Linked DNA regions of Homo sapiens: region 1 is linked to region 2. The links come from fine-mapping of genetic effects on gene expression. Tissue or cell type: whole blood. Region 2 holds a variant in brackets; the other region holds the start of a gene. All regions are shown on one strand. Distances are from middle to middle.

The links. PIP is the estimated chance that this variant, and not a neighbour inherited with it, causes the effect. A credible set is the group of variants that fine-mapping cannot tell apart.
Region 1: CAPS starts here. The variant in region 2 is the best candidate, but not a certain one, in a credible set for the expression of CAPS in whole blood (INTERVAL, PIP 0.82).

What each region holds. Positions count from the first base shown.
Region 1 is chr19:5,911,691-5,916,690 of GRCh38, reverse strand. CAPS (calcyphosine) reads right to left here and starts at 2,437. Exons shown (of 5, transcript NM_004058.5): 1 at 2,382-2,437; 2 at 2,202-2,306; 3 at 1,951-2,128; 4 at 1,545-1,751; 5 at 480-1,470. The coding sequence starts at 2,284. The coding sequence ends at 1,369. It overlaps RANBP3 (RAN binding protein 3), which reads left to right. Exons shown (of 17, transcript NM_007322.3): 17 at 1-552.
Region 2 is chr19:5,885,108-5,895,799 of GRCh38, reverse strand. NDUFA11 (NADH:ubiquinone oxidoreductase subunit A11) reads left to right here. Exons shown (of 4, transcript NM_175614.5): 4 at 946-1,125. The coding sequence ends at 1,058. Among named protein-coding and RNA genes, the nearest start is that of NDUFA11, 13 kb to the left of the region's middle. RefSeq lists silencers at 2,296-2,496, 3,063-3,122 and an enhancer at 2,738-3,544. The variant A/G (reference allele first, on the strand shown) is at 4,759.

The DNA.
Region 1 (5,000 bases), 24 kb before region 2:
GGCCATCCCTTCCCCAGCCACAGGTGTCCCTGCCCCCAGGACAGTCCAGGGCCAGGGGCTTCTGTGAGAGGCAGAGGGGGACCCTCACCAAATCTTGGTGGAAGAGCCCAGGGGCTGGTCCCAGAACAGGCAGTCTCACAAGCACGCAGCACACTGGAGTGGACGCCTGTGCCCACCCGAGCCTGGAGCATGGCCAAGAGCCAGCTTGCACCACCCACCTGGGAGGCCGAGGAGGAGGTCCCCTGGGCACAGGGCCTCTTTGGGACTTCAGAGGAAATCTCCCAGTCCCACTCTCGGAGGGTTAAGAGAAGGCCTCCTGCAGCTGTGCCGTCCACACCTCTAGGTCGCCAGAGCCCTGGCCCCCAGCCCCCAGCAAGCCTGAGCCCGGGAAGAACCAGAGGCCCTCCCGAGAGACCCAGTCACACGTCTCTGCTTTAAGCCTTAGCCAGCTAGTGACGAGTACAACGAGATAACGCCCATGTGTTTTGGAACATTTATGTAAGATTGTCATATGAAATGTATTTGGGAACTACATTAAACTTTTAACTAAAACCCTGGCCTCTGCATGCCCCAGGGGCCTCAGGAAGCCCCTGACCAGGAACGGCCTCCACCTCCCCGGGCGAGGACCTCCAGCAGCCTGGGGCCTCATGCTCCCACCCAGCGTGTCACCAGTGCTGGGGTCCAGCCACAGCCCTGTTCTCTCCACCACCACCCGCACTTTACCCCCACCCCTGCTGCAAGGCCCCGCCGGTCTGCCCCCGCCCAGAGCTCCCAGCCTCGGGCCGCTCACCAGAATGTAGATACTGGGCCCGCTGGACATGTTACCTGCTATTTTTATTCCCCATTTGCCATCTTCTGATTGGGGGTTGATGTTTTACAGATTTTTTTTTCAAAGGCTTTATTTCAGTTTCTGAGGTTAGGATGCCCCTGTGCCCCTCGCTCCACACCTGGGCAGGTCTAAACTTCCTTCCAGGATGGCCTCCACACACAGCCTCCCACCTGGGGTCACCTGGCTTCCTGGGGGACCCGCAAGGGAGGGGCAGGGAGCAGCAGTCCGGGTGCGGGGATCGGGGGACCTCGGCGGGGGCATCCACAGGGGCTGCAAGATCTCTGGTCAGCATGGCGTGGGTGGGGAGAGCGTTTCTCCCTGGGGTCCTGAGCCAGTGACTCCTGTTAGGACCTTTGTCCCACCTCCGCCTGGTGGACCGGCAGGGACCTGGTCTAGCCAGTCCTGCAGCCTCCATTCCCCCACCTGCCCCTCCCCGCTCTGTGGTGTGGCTGCCCAGGAGAGAAGGGGCCCAGGGAAGGGAGGTCTCCGGCAGGGGTGGGGAGTGACAGGCCAGGGCAGCAGGGCTGAGCCGGAGCTGCTCACAGCTGCCAGGCACTGGTCATCATGGCCACGAACTCCTCATCCGTGTTCATGGAGGCACTCACGCCGCTGTAGTAGTCCTGGAATTCCGCCAGTGTGACCTGGGAACAGAGGGCCGTGAGGGGGCACGGCCGAGGAACTGCCTGGGGAGGGGGCCCCCCGCGCAGCCACCCACCTGCCCGTCCTTCTCAGAGGAGTCGAAGTTGTCCAGGAAGCGGCGCAGCACCTCGTCCTCGGTCCACTCCCCACTGCGCACCTTGGGGTGGGCACGGCCACTGTACACCCCGCGGAGGTCGTCCACCGTCACGACGCCGTCCCCACTGCGGTCCAGCTTGGCAAATGCAGCTGCGATGACAGCCTCCCGGGCCTGGGACATGGGGGGCTGGGACAGGAGGTGGTGACTGGGGGTGGTGGGTAGCACACCCAAACCCCCAAGACGCTGTGCAGAGCACTGGGGCTGTATGCCCCAGCAGGCGCCTCTTAACAGCAGCTCTTAGGGAGGAGTCCCCGTCTCCGCATCTCAGCATCCTCTGTCGCCCCATGCCCAGGGCACACGCCTTGACTGTGAGGTGGGGGCTCACCCGCAGCGCCCGAAGGAACTCCTCCAGATCCAGCGTCCCGCTGCCATTGCGGTCCCACTTCCTGCACACACCCTCTGCCTCCGCCTGGTCCAGCACCAGCCCGAGTTTGGCCAGACCCTGCCGGAACTCATCAGCGTCCAGGGATCTGCTCCCGTCCCGGTCTAGTTGGCGGAAAAACCTGGAGGCAGGGGACACGGTTGGAACAGTGGTCTCAGGGGCCGGGGTCAGGAAGGTGAGAGGGGACAGCTCACCTGGCCAGGCCCTGGATGCCCGAGGCCCCGCGGGACAGGCACTGTGCCCGGAGTTTCTCCATGGTGGCATCCACGGCGTCCATGCTTGGTCTGGGCTCTGGGCAGCTGGAAGGGAGAGAGGTCAAGGTGGGGACTCCCGCAAGCCCACCCTGGCCGACTGCCCCTTGTTCAGATGCTCACCTGGCCTGCGTCTGTCCCAGAGTCCTGCCTGCGGGGCCTTGTGTTAGCTGTGTTGTGCCTGGGGAGACTGTTGCTAGTGGAAGGTGCCTCTGGAGATGGGGTGGGGCCCAGCTGCATGAATGCACTGTGCTGGGCAGTGGGGAGTGGGGGAGGGATGGGTGCGCCCAGCCTGACTGCTTACTCAACTGCCAGCCCCACAGGGCCTGGGACAGAGCCAGATCCCTGTGGCACTGCATCCCTTCCTGGCTCCAAGGAGGAGGGGCAGGCCACTGCCCTGCAGGGGCTGAAATGCCCTGGATGGAGACAAGTCCGTGGCTGGGGAGGCTTGACGCATGATTCCTGTGTGACCCTGGACAGGTCCCTTTCCCTCTCTGGCTTCACAGGGGCTTCTCAGCCCGAGCCAGGGCTGACAAAATTGCTGAGGAATCAAAGTTCAAAAGGGCCCCAGGTTCTGACCGGCCACTGCGGCTCATGCCTGAAATCCCAGCACTTTGGGAGGTCTAGGTGGGAGGATCACTTGAGCCCAGGAGTTTGGACCAGCCTGGGGAACATATAGAGAACTTGTTTCTATTGTACAGCAACAAAAATGCCCCAGGTGGGCTGGGCGCGGTGGCTCATGCCTGTAATCCCAGCACTTTGGGAGGCCGAGGTGGGCAGATCACAAGGTGAGGAGTTTGAGACCAGCCTGACCAACATGGTGAAACCCCGCCTCTACTAAAAATACAAAAATTAGCCGTGCATGATGGTGGGCGCCTGTAATCCGAGCTACTTAGGAAGCTGAGGCAGGAGAATCGCTTGAACCCAGGAGGTGGAGCTTGCAGTGAGCCAAGATTGCACCACTGCACTCCAGTCTGGGCGACAGAGCAAGACTCCATCTCAAAAAGAAAAAAAAAAAAAAAGCCCCAGGTGGCCCAGGTCCTGGGGCCCTAAGACCTCCCACCCAGGCCCACCTCCAAGGGCAGGTCCTGCAACCCACAGAGACTGAGCTGAGCCTGAGGGACACCTCTGCTCACTGCCACAAAGCTTGTCACTGGCCGTTGTTAGGAGCCAGTCCCAGGATTTCTGTCTTTACGGATCTTTTGTTGTTGGTTTTCAGGCCTGAAACGTGACTTAGTGGGCTGGCTCCTGACAAGGTGGTGAGCCAGAGGTTGTGACCCCGAGTGGAAGAGCAGCCCTGATCCTGGACATAAACCTCAAGAGACGAAGCCACCTCACTGAAGGCCTTCAACGGAGACATCGGATATACCTGCCCGCTAAGATAGGTGGGTTTTCCAGGACTTGAAACGTGGGCCCTGTTTGAGGACCCACTGTTCGCCCCGACCCAAGGATCATCAATCGGAGCCTTCTCCAAGCCTGGCTTTACCTCGCTCACAGCACAATTATATTGTCAGAAGTTGCCTTGCCTGAGCGCGGTGGCTCATGCCTGTAATCCCAACACTTTGGGAAGCCAGGGCAGGAAGATCACTTGAGCCCAGGAGTTTGAGACCCGCCTGTGCAACATAGTGAGACCCCCCCATCTCTACAAAAACTACAAAAAATTAGCCAGGCATGGTGGTGTGTTCCTGTAATCCCACCTACTTGGAAGGCTGAGGCAGGAGGATCACTTGAGCCCGGGAGTTGGAGGCTGCAGTGAGCTATGATCGCACCACTGCACTCCAGCCTGGGTTACAGAGCAAGACGCCCGCCTCTTAAAAATAAGTAAATAAACTGGCCGGGCACGGTGGCTCACGCCTGTAATCCCAGCACTTTGGGAGGCCGAGGCGGGCAGATCATGAGGTCAGCAGTTCGAGACCAGCCTGGCCAACATGGTGAAACCCTGTCTCTACTATAAATACAAAAATTAGTCAGCCGGGTGCGGTGGCTCATGCCTGTAATCACAGCACTTTGGGAGGCCGAGGCAGACAGATCACCTGAGGTCAGGAGTTTGAGACCAGCCTGGCCAACATGGTGAAACCCTGTCTCTACTTAAAATACGAAAAACTAGCTGGGCGTGGTGGTATGTGCCTGTAATCCCAGCTACTCGGGAGGCTGAGGCAGGAGAATTGCATGAACCTGGGAAGCGGAGGTTGCAGTGAGCCGAGATCGTGCCATTGCACTCCAGACTGGGGGACAAGAGCAAGACTTTGTCTCAAAAAAAAAAAAAGAAAATTAGCCAGGTATGGTGGCGGGTGCCTGTAATCCCACCTACTCCAGAGGCTGAGGCAGGAGAATCACTTGAACCCAGGAGGCAGAGGTTGCAGTGAACCAAGACCATGCCACTGCACCACAGCCTGGGCGACAGAGTGAGACTCTGTCTCAAAAATAAATAAATAACTTAAAAAAAGAGGCCAGGGCTGGGCGCGGTGGCTCACAGCTGTAATCCCAGCACTTTGGGAGGCTGAGGTGGGCGGATCACTTGAGGTCAGGAGTTCAAGACCAGCCTGGCCAACATTTTGAAACCCCATCTCTACTAAAAAAAATAAATAGCTGGGCATGGTGGTGCATGCCTGTAATCCCAGCTACTCAGGAGGCCAAGGCAGGAGAATCACTTGAACCCTGGAGGCAGAGGTTGCAGTGAGCCTAGATCACACCACTGTACTTCAGCCTGGGTGGCAGGGTGGCAGAGCCAGACTCCGTCTC
Region 2 (10,692 bases):
TGGAGAAGGCCACGCTTGGCACAGGGGAGCCCGTCTGGAGCATGAGCCAGACATCACTCCTGCCCTCCCATGGGCCCGGGCTCAGCGTCAGTGCCCGCCTGTGCCCCTGGCCTACCCCCAGCCCGCCAAGGCTCGGGCCCTCAGGGCCAGCGGGAGGAGTGAACGAGCCCTCTTGCAGCTCAGCCGCTCTGGCCTGGCATGTTGGGAGTGATGAATGGCAGGTTCCAGGCAGGCAGAGAGGGAGGGTGCGAGGGCAGGGCGTACGCCGTCACTGCTGTCTCTGCGTCAAGACCTTGGGGAGGCCTTGTCCCTCCCCAGCTCCCACTGGAACTGGTCAGAGGTTGCAGGTGGGTTGAGGTCTTGACTGTAGCCCAGCTCAGGCTGGAACTGCTCCCTGTCCCCAAGCCAGCCTCCCTGTCTCTCTTCAAAGAGTGTGAGTCCCTTTAGGTCCTGGTGTGTGGGGACACACCTCCTTCCTCCTCTGGCCCGGAGGCTTCGGAGCAGGAGAGCCTGGAGAAGTGGGGGCACTGTCGGGGCTCCTCGGTACACAGACCACGGGACAGATGCGTGGCCTGGCCCTGGCATCCATGGGCAAAGGAGAGACTGAGACACACCGATGTGTCACCATGGCCCGGTGCCCAGCCTTGCCCCAGCCCCAGCTGGGGGCAGCACGGTGTCCTCGCAGGGGGAAGTCAGTGTGGGGCGGGATGAGGACCCACAGCCTGGGTTCCTGCTGGGAAGCAACCTGGACTCCGGCCTCCCTCTGTGCATCAGTTTCCACATCTCCAGAGTCTAGGGCCCTCTTCCTGAGTGACTTAATCCCTGAAGAGAGTGTCCTGTCAGGGGTCTCAGTCTGGCTCCCAGGGTGGGCACCGGCCAGGGCGTGGAGCGTCTTGGTCCGGCCGAGCCCCACCCGGGCCTGACATCACCTCCCCACTCCCACAGCGCACAACTACGGGATTGGCGCCGCCGCCTGCGTGTACTTTGGCATAGCGGCCTCCCTGGTCAAGATGGGCCGGCTGGAGGGCTGGGAGGTGTTTGCAAAACCCAAGGTGTGAGCCCTGTGCCTGCCGGGACCTCCAGCCTGCAGAATGCGTCCAGAAATAAATTCTGTGTCTGTGTGTGTGTCAGTGTCCGGAGGGCTTGATGACGGCGACACAGCAGCCGGTGAGGGCGGATCTGGGAGGGAGTGAGGAAGGGAGATAAGATAAGGCCCCCTGCACACGCGCCTGCCTGCCGCCTGCCGTCCCTGCCAAGGGTACCAGCCTGGCCCCACAGAACTGGTAGTGCATCAGGCTGGGGCCATCGGGAGCCCAGGAGGGGAGACGGCTGGGATGCGCCCCAGCCTCTGCTTCCCCCAGTTCCCAGGGCAGGGCAGGAGCGTGCCAGTGACCTGCCAGCAAGTGGAAAATGGGCCCTGCCGCCCACAGCCCTTCCCTCAGCGCTGTGGGCTCTGGTCACAACCCCCCTGCAGATCTTGAGCCATCCTTTCTCTGGGCCTGTCCCCAAAGCCAACAACATGTGGAAAACACGCCCAGGCCCTGTCTCCAAATTCCTGGGCACTGGAGCGGAGAGCCCCGGACAGGCTGGTCCAGCAGCCGTCCCCATCCGGCAGGTCACTCGCAGCCCCTGGGGCTAGGGCAGAGCGGGACAGGACCCCCCTCAGCACCTGGCTGGTGGCAGCGACAAGGGAAAGAATTGCGATCCCTTCCTGCCACCTGTCAGGCCAGTGATTTAGGTGGCCCTGGAATGCTGGCACCACCCCGGGCCCCTTCTCCAGAACTGGCTCATGCTCCCTGGCAGCTGGAGAGGAAGCCTGCAAGCTCCCACATGCTGCGGTGGGCTGCAAATTAGGGCGCTCCAGGCTCCACCCAGGGGAGCGGAGCTGTGCACAGCCCTGGCTGGGATGGATCTGGGCCCTGCTGGTGGGCCGGGGACAGCAGGAACCGGCAGGGCTGGCTATGGCCCTCCTGACCCGTATCCGGCCCCATCTCTTCCCTTTTCTCAAGCCCATCCGCGGGGCCTAGATGTGAAAAGCCAAACTTCACTTTCAGCCTCATATCCTTCTCTGTCCACCCCCGAGTAGTAACTCAGCCTGGAACTCCCGGGCCCAAGCAATCCTCCCACCTCAGCCTCCCGAGTAGCCAGGACTATGGCCACCGCCACTATGCCTGGTTAATTTTTTTAAAAAATGTTGTAGGCTGGGCCTGGTGGTTTGAGCCTGTAATCTCAGCACTTTTGGAGGTTGAGGTGGGAGGATTGCTTGAGGCCAGGAGCTTGGAACCAGCCTGGGCAACGCAGTGAGACCCTGTCTCTACCAAAAATTCGTCTTTTTGAGACATAGTCTTGCTCTGTCTCTCAAGCTGGAGGGCAGTGGCAGGATCATGGCTCACTGGAACCTTGACCTTCCTGGCTTATGCGACTCTCTCATCTCAGCCTCCCTGGTAGCTGGGACTGCAGGTGTGCACCACTACAGCCAGCTAATTGTTTTTATTTTTATTTTTTGTAGAGACAGGATCTCACTGTGTTGTGCAGGCTGGTCTCAAACTCCTGGCCTCGAGCAGTCCTCACACCTCAGCCTCCCAGAGTGCTGGGATTATAGGCATGAGCCACTGTGTACAGAGATTCTGGGTCCCTTCTTCCAGCGCCTGCCTCGAAGTCCTCTCTGGAGAGAGCACAGATGTCCACGCGTGTTCCAGCACAAGGGGGGCATGCAACAGCTCAGGGTCACGTCCACTTCCGGAGCTGGGTGCCCGGGCCTCGGGCTCCCTGAGAAAGGGCGGACACACCCACCCCGCACCCAGAGGGGCAGGGGCCCTGACACCTGTCCAAGCCCTAATAGAGTCATTGTTAAACACTCTGGGTTCGAACCCCAGAACTTGATTCTTTCCTTGTTCTGTCCTCAGAGGACGGCAGCACCCAGGCCTCAGCTTTCCCACCTGGTAAATGGGAATAAGGGCCCCTCAGAGATGCCCCACAAAGAAAGACGATTCCACCTCCCTGCAGGCATCCCATCCACTCACGGGCATCGCATCCACTCGAGGGCACCGGCCTCTGTCTCTACTGCGGCCGGCAGGGGGCAGCGCCCACCACAGCACGGCCTGCTGGGCAGTGTGGACCCGGGCGGTCATCCCCAGGCCCCCAGCCCCGCGGTGACCACAGGCGTCAGATTCCATCCCTTCCTCCGCACTCCAGGCCTTGTCTGTCCCTCATCCCCCTTCCTTCCCATGCATCCTGCCCACCGCAGCCGGGAAGTGATGGCTTCTAGGAATGGGCAATACAGCCCCAAACCTCCAGCCAAGGACACCGAAGGCTGGACAGGAGGAAAGACTAGTCCACGTCCCCACGACGGTCACCCTCAGCCCTGCACCATGGCCGCTTCTGGGACTGGTTCCACGCAGGCCTCCGCCCCCTGCAAGCCCTTCCCCGGCCCTCCAGGCCCGTGTGCGGCCCAAACCCTGTACCAGATCTCTTAGCCCTCTTCCACGGATGCGCGCGCTGAGGCCCACCCTGGGTAGTGGAGCTTGAAATTTAAAGGCCGCACGCCCCTTCGCACCTCCCAGCCCCAGGTGCCTCCCTGTGTTCAAGGGAGCCGACGGCTCAGACCAGGAGCTGTGCTCGCCGCCCACCCAGCCCATTCCGGGCTAGCCGCCAGGGTTGGCGCAGGCCTGCCAGGCGCCCCCACCTCGCCTGCAGGACGGGCCCCCCAGAATGGAACACGAGGGGGTGGTCTCTTGCTGGGCTCCAGGGAACCCCAAAGCCGAGGCCCCCCGGCCCATAAACATTTACTAGGTTGTGGAGGGCTGACGTCACTCCCACCCCACACACAAGAGGGCCCCCGTCTGGAACATCGGTCCCAGCAGGCTCCCTGAGGGGCTGTGGGGGACCCTTCCTGAGTTTACCTTGAACTTCATGGAGCCCTTCCCAGCCCCAGGCAGTCAGGGCTGGAACTGAGGAGGGGCAGAGCCTCCCTGGGGAGCTAGGAGGGCTTCCTAGAGGAGGAGGCGGCACAGCAGAGAGGGCCCAAGGATGAAGAGGCTTTTCCATGTGTACCCAGCGGGAGGCTGGTCCAGGCAGAGCACACAGCAACAGCAGAGGCCTGCTGTGAGGGAGAGCAGTGGGCGATCAGGGGCCTCCTGGTCCAGGAGAGGTGCCTGGGGGCTGCAGGGCACACACTTGCTTCCCGAGAATCCATCCCTGGAGACACATCCCCAGCAGAGACAAGGCTCCAAGAACACCGGCCTGGCCCTGCGCCGTGGCTCAGGCCTGTAATCCCAGTACTTTGGGAGGCCGAGGCTGGGGGATCACTTGAGGTCAGGAGTTTCAGACCACCCTGGCCAACACAGTGAAACCCTGTCTCTACTATACAAAAATAAGCCAGGTGTGGTGGCAGGCACCTGTAATCCCAGCTACTTGGGAGGCTGAGGCATGAGAATCCCTTGAACCTGGGAGGTGGAGGTTGCAGTGAGCCGAGATCATGTCACTGTACTCCAGCCTGGGAGACAGTGAGCGAGACTTTGTATCAAAAATAAATAAATAAATAACGCTGGCCTGGGCTGGCGCTGACCCAGGCCCCGCCGCCGGGGGTCTCTAAGCTCTTGGGTGAGCCAAGAAAACATTCACAAGACAAAAAAAAGGGGGGTGGGGGTGGGGAACATCAAGCTTTTCCCACCTGCCAGGCAGGTGCAGTTGTTATTATTATTTTTGGCTCATTTTAGTCTGCGCAGCCGTGCGTGAGCTCTGTTAGGCATTAGTCCT[A/G]TTTTACAGATGAGGAAACTGAGGCCCGGGAGGTGACTTCCCAGGGCCTGGCAGTAGCTAAAAGAAGTGTTACTTCTCCTAAGAATAGCTATTGTTTGGAAAATGGCAATTTGTTCCTTTAAGACTTTCTTAGTGGTCTTGGAGATTGGAGCGAAAACACCCCACTAAGGGCTGGGCGCGGTGGCTCACGCCTGTAATCCCAGCACTTTGGGAGGCCGAGGCGGGCGGATCACAAGGTCAGGAGATTGAGACCATCCTGACTAACACGGTGAAACCCTGTCTCTACTAAGAATACAAAAACAGTCTGGCATGGTGGCGGGCGTCTGTAGTCCCAGCTACTCGGGAGGCTGAGGCACGAGAATGGCGTGAACCCGGGAGGCGGAGCTTGCAGTGAGCCAAGATCACGCCACTGCACTCCAGCTTGGGCGACAGAGTGAGACTCCGTCTCAAAAAAAAAAAAAAAGAAAATACCTCACTGAGAAAGGAAGGTGTTTTCGCTGCCAACTTGAGCACAACTGTACTCCTTTAAACTTGTGTTGAGTGTGGGCTGTGGGCTCCTATAAATGTGTTTGACATGATTGGGGTGGGACACAGCTGAGAAGACCCCACGGGGCTGATGTGTGCCCCTCCTGGGACTGAAGAGCTGCTCCCGCCCTCCCCGCATCTCGAGCCCCTTTGCCTTCAGAATCTGTCCCAGATCTGCCTCTAGTCTGATTCCATCATCACGACAAGCGTAGTCCCCTCTGCCCTGGTCACCCGGCTACCCCCTGAGCCAGAAGGCGCCTGTGAGCCCCTAAGTCAGGTCCCGCCCCTCCCCTGCCCACAGTCCTCCATGGCTCCCACCCCACTTGGGGGAAAAGCCCAAATCCTCTCTACAGCCCACTATGCCCTGTGTGTCCCGACCCCTCCTCTCCCTCCCCTCCCTCTCCTCCCCTCCCCTCTTCACTGCTCCAGCCCCACCAGCCTCCTCACTCTTCCTCCAAAACCCCTGGCACAGTCCTGCCCTAGGGCCTTTGCATAGTCCATACCCTCTGCCTGCAATGCCTGTCCCCTAGATGTCCCCAAGCTCACCCCTCACCTCCTTCAATTCTCAGCTCACAAGCCACCTCCTCATCCCCCGTCCCCAGGCCACCAGCACTCCACACTCATTTGCCTTCTAGTTTTGCCCGTAGCCCCTGCCAGTTTCTAAGTCCCACGTCACCATCACGTGTGTTATTTATGTGCACCTCCTTGAGGACTGGGACGTATCCTGGCTGTTATATCCTCTGCCTACACCCCGGCACCCAGCCGAGGAACGCAGCAGGGCTCCAGAACTATGTGTGGAATGAATGAATGGATAAACAAATGAATGAATCTCCAGGTCTGCAAAGGGTAGGAGGTCCAGAGGTGGGGCCTGAGAACCACTTGGGGGTGGCTGTGCACCCTGCCTGGCCCTGCTTTGCTGCCTGGGTGGTATAGGCTCTCGGAGGGGGATCAGGGTCCTTCTCACTCTCCCCACATGAGATGATGGCTGCAGTGGAGTGCGGGAAGGCACGGGAAGAGAAGCCCTCCAGACCCGGGGGCAAGACTCAGAGTTCATTCAGCAAACAGTCATGTGCAGTATAACAGCATTTCGGTCACTGACGGACCACATATGTGAAGGGAGTCCCATGAGACTTTTTTTTTTTTTTTTTTTTTGACACTGAGTCTCTGCCGCCTAGGGGTTCAAGCGATTCTCCAGCCTCAGCCTCCCGAGTATCTGGGATTACAGGTGCCCACCACCACACTCAGTTAATTTGTTGTTTTTTGTTTTTGTTTTTGTTTCTTTTTTTTTCTTTTCTTTTTTTTTGTTTAGTTTGGTTTTTTGAGACAGAGTCTTGCTCTCTCACATTGTCACCCAGGCTGGAGTGCAGTGGCTCACTGCAAGCTCCGCCTCCCAGGTTGACGCCATTCTCCTGCCTCAGCCTCCTGAGTAGCTGGGACTACAGGCGCCCACTGCCACGCCCGGCTAATTTTTTTGTATTTTTAGTAGAGACCGGGTTTCACCGTGTTAGCCAGGATGGTCTCAATCTCCTGACCTCGTGATCCGCCCGCCTCGGCCTCCCAAAGTGCTGGGATTACAGGCATGAGCCACTGCGCCCGGCCTGTTTTTGTTTTTTTTTTCTGAGATGGAGTTTCACTCTGTCACTCAGGTTGGAGTGCAGTGGGGAGATCTCGGCTCACTGCAACCTCCACCTCCTGGGTTCAAGCAATTCTCTGCCTCAGCCTCCCGAGTAGCTGGGATTACAGGCTCCCGCCACCACATCCGCCTAATTCTTTTGTATTTGTAGTAGAGATGGGGTTTCATCAAGTTGGCCAGGCTGGTCTCAAACTCCTGACCTTAAGTGATCTGCCCGCCTCGGCCTCCCAAAGTGCTGGGAATACAAGTGTGAGCCACCGCACCCGGCTCCCATAAGATTTTATACCATATTTTTATTGTACCTTTTCTGTTTGTGGATGTTTAGAGACAAATATTTGTCATCATGTTACAGTTGCCCACAGTATTCTGTACAGTCACATGCTCTGCAGGTTTATAGCCTGGGAGCAGTAGACAGTACCATGAAGCCTGGTGTGCAGTACGTTCTACCATCTAGGCGTGTGTACGCTGGGATGTTTGTGCATGACAAAATCATCTAATGACGAATTTCTCCAAACATACACCCATCATGAAGCAACTACTGTGTGTGTGTGTGTGTATTTTTTTTTTTTTTTTTTAAGAAAGGGTCTTGGCCGGGCGTGGTGGCTCACGCCTGTAATCCCAGTACTTTGGGAGGCCGAGGTGGGCGGATCACGAGGTCAGGAGATCGAGACCATCCTGGCTAGCATGGAGAAAAACCCTGTCTCTACTAAAAAATACAAAAAAAATTCAGCGGGGTGTGGTGGCGGGCGCCTGTAGTTCCAGCTGCTCGGGAGGCTGAGGCGAGAGAATGGCGTGAACCTGGGAGGCGGAGCTTGCAGTGAGCCGAGATCGCGCCACTGCGCTCCAGCCTGGGCCACAGAGTGAGACTCCATCTCAAAAAAAAAAGAGAAAGAAAAAGAAAGACAGGGTCTTAGCCAGGCGCAGTGGCTGACACCTGTAATCTCAGCACTTTGGGAGGCTGAGATTGGCAGATCACTTGAGGCCAGGAGTTCGAGACCAGCCTGGCCAACATGGCAAAACCCGGTCTCTACTAAAAATGCAAAAATTAGGCGTGGTGGCAGGTGCCTGTAATCCCAGCTACTTGGGAGGCTGAGACATGAGAATCGCTTGAACCTGAGAGGCGGAGGTTGCAGTGAGCCGAGATTGCGTCACTGCACTCCAGCCTGAGTGATAGAGCAAGACTCCATCTCCAAAAAAAAATAAACAAAATAAATAAATAAATAAATGAAAATCAGCTAGGCATCGTGGTGTGAGCCTGTAATACCAGCTACTCAGGAGACTAAGGCAGGAGAAACACTTGAACCCAGGAGGTGGAGGTTGCAGTGAGCTGAGATCGAGCCACTGCACTCCAGCCTGAGTGACAAGAGCAAAACTCCATCTCAAAAAATAAGAAGAAGACAAGGTCTTGCCCTGTTGCCCAGATTGGAGTGCAGTGGTGAGATCATAGCTTACTGCAACCTCAAACTCCTGGGCTCAAACGATTCTTCTGCCTCAGCTTCCAAGAAGCTGGGACTACAGGCATGCACCAACACACCTGGCTAATTTCTAAATTTTTTGTAGAGATGGAGTCTCACTGTGTTGTCCAGGCTGGTCTTGAACTCCCGGCCTCAAGTGACCCTCCTGCTTCAGCCTCCCAAAGTGCTGGGATTACAGGCGGGAGTCACTGTGGCCAGCTGCAGATCTTGCTTAAACCATAGACAGGCACTTCTGGGCCAAACATTTCCCTTGTCCTGACAAAGACCCCTGGGACCAACACTGGCCCACTAGGGTACCCCCAAAAGAGCCAAAAAGGGGGCTGGAGCCAGGCATGGTGGTACACACCTGTAGTCCCAGCTACTTAGGAGGCTAAGGTAGGAGAATCGCTTGAGCCCAGGAGTTCGAGGCTGCAGTAAGCTATGATCCTGCCACCGCACTCCAGCCTGGGTGACAGAGCGAGACCCTGTCTCTAAAAAAAGAGAGGCCCAGAGCCCTGAATGCCTTGGGGGTGCCACATCCCTGTACCCACAGGGTCCCCAGCAGAGCACAGAGGGAGGAAGAGGGAGTAGACAGGGGTAGAGATCTTAGGAAAGAGGACGTGACTCTCTCCTGGCTGTGTTCTGGTAGGAGGCCCCAGCCTTAAAGCCTAAAGCCGGGTTAGTCATTACTTCAGGGCTCCAGAAGTCAGGGCGGGACTTGCCCCCCCTTATCCTATCTGGCTTGGCGTCCAAGGCTAGGACCCAGTGGAGCCATAGTTCCCTGGTCCCACATCATCTCAGGCATCCCCTGTGTCCACAAGGGCCACACAGCCAGCGAGCCATTTGGCCTATGGGGAAACTGAGGCATAGGGAAGCTCGGGCCTTCCTCCCTGTGTATCTCTTTTCTAGCCAGCCTCCCTCCACTTGCTGTGGTCCTCCTCAGAGCGTGGGCGCTCAGAGGGGCCTGGTTTGGCCCCCAGCCCCACCATTGGCGCACACAGGTCCTTCCTCTGAGCCAGCCAAGCCTCCCCTCGGGCTTCCTGGAAAGCTGGGTGGTCGGGCCGAGCTGCAAGGGGCTCCGGCAGGCCTGGCCCTGTCCCTGGCCCCAGCCCAGCCCACATCTCACCTTCCAGGGGTCCCCACTGGTCTGAACCCTCGCTGAACCAGAGTAGGAAAGGTGTGAGCCAGGACAAGAGCAGGGCTCTGGGGGGCCTCGTTGGGGGGCCTGGTGGGGGATTCAGCCCAAACTGAGGGGCAGCAGGCAGAGCGATGGCCTGGCCTGAAATCTAGAGCCACCACCCCTGCCACCCCAGCCTTTTCAAACCCATCCAAAGTCTTCTATTTTGTCCATTTTTTTTTTCTCAGCACTTTTTTTTTTTTGAGACGGAGTCTCGCTCTGTCGCCCAGGCTGGAGTGCAGTGGCGCCATCTCGGCTCACTGCAAGCTTTGCCTCCCGGGTTCACGCCATTCTCCTGCTTCAGCCTCCCGAGTAGGTGGGACTACAGGCGCCCGCACCAAGCCCGGCCAATTTTTTTGTATTTTTAGTAGAGACGGGGTTTCACTGTGTTAGCCAGGATGGTCTTGATCTCCTGACCTCATGATCCTCCGGCCTCGGCCTCCCAAAGTGCTGGGATTACAGGCATGAGCCACCGCGCCCGGCCTTTCTCAGTATGCTTTCTAAAATGCATTTTACAGTTTATCCTCCTTCTTTTAGAGGTAAGACAGACGCATGCCATAGAATTCAAAAGATTCTAGAGGGTGTTTAGAATAAATACCAGCCACTCCCCAAGCCCCACGCCATCCCCAGAGGCCATTAGTCGGTTTCTTGTTTCTCCTTCCAGCCATGTTCCACGCCAAAACAAGCATGTCTGTATATTTTCTTTTCCCCACGGAAACAACATCACACTCCCCGTACTTTCTTGCAGCTCAGCGTAGTTGACTCCTAACAATGCATCTCGGATCTTTTCTTCGAGTGCAGAACTTCCCCCTCTTTTGTAAGGACAGTGTAATATTCCATCTTGAGGCTGGACCATTGTTCTGGTGAAAGCACATGTCCTGGCCTCCAGTCTTCTGCTACTATACACCGGGCAGCAATGAAGAAATTTTTTTTTTTTTTTTTGAGACGGAGTCTCACTCTGTCACCCAGGCTGGAGTGCAGTGGCACAATCTTGGCTCACTGCAAGCTCCGCCTTCCCTGTTCACACCATCGTCCTGCCTCAGCCTCCCGAGTAGCTGGGACTACAGGTGCCTCCACCACGCCCAGCTAATTTTTTGTATTTTTAGTAGAGACGGGGTTTCACCGTGTTAGCCAGGATGGTCTCG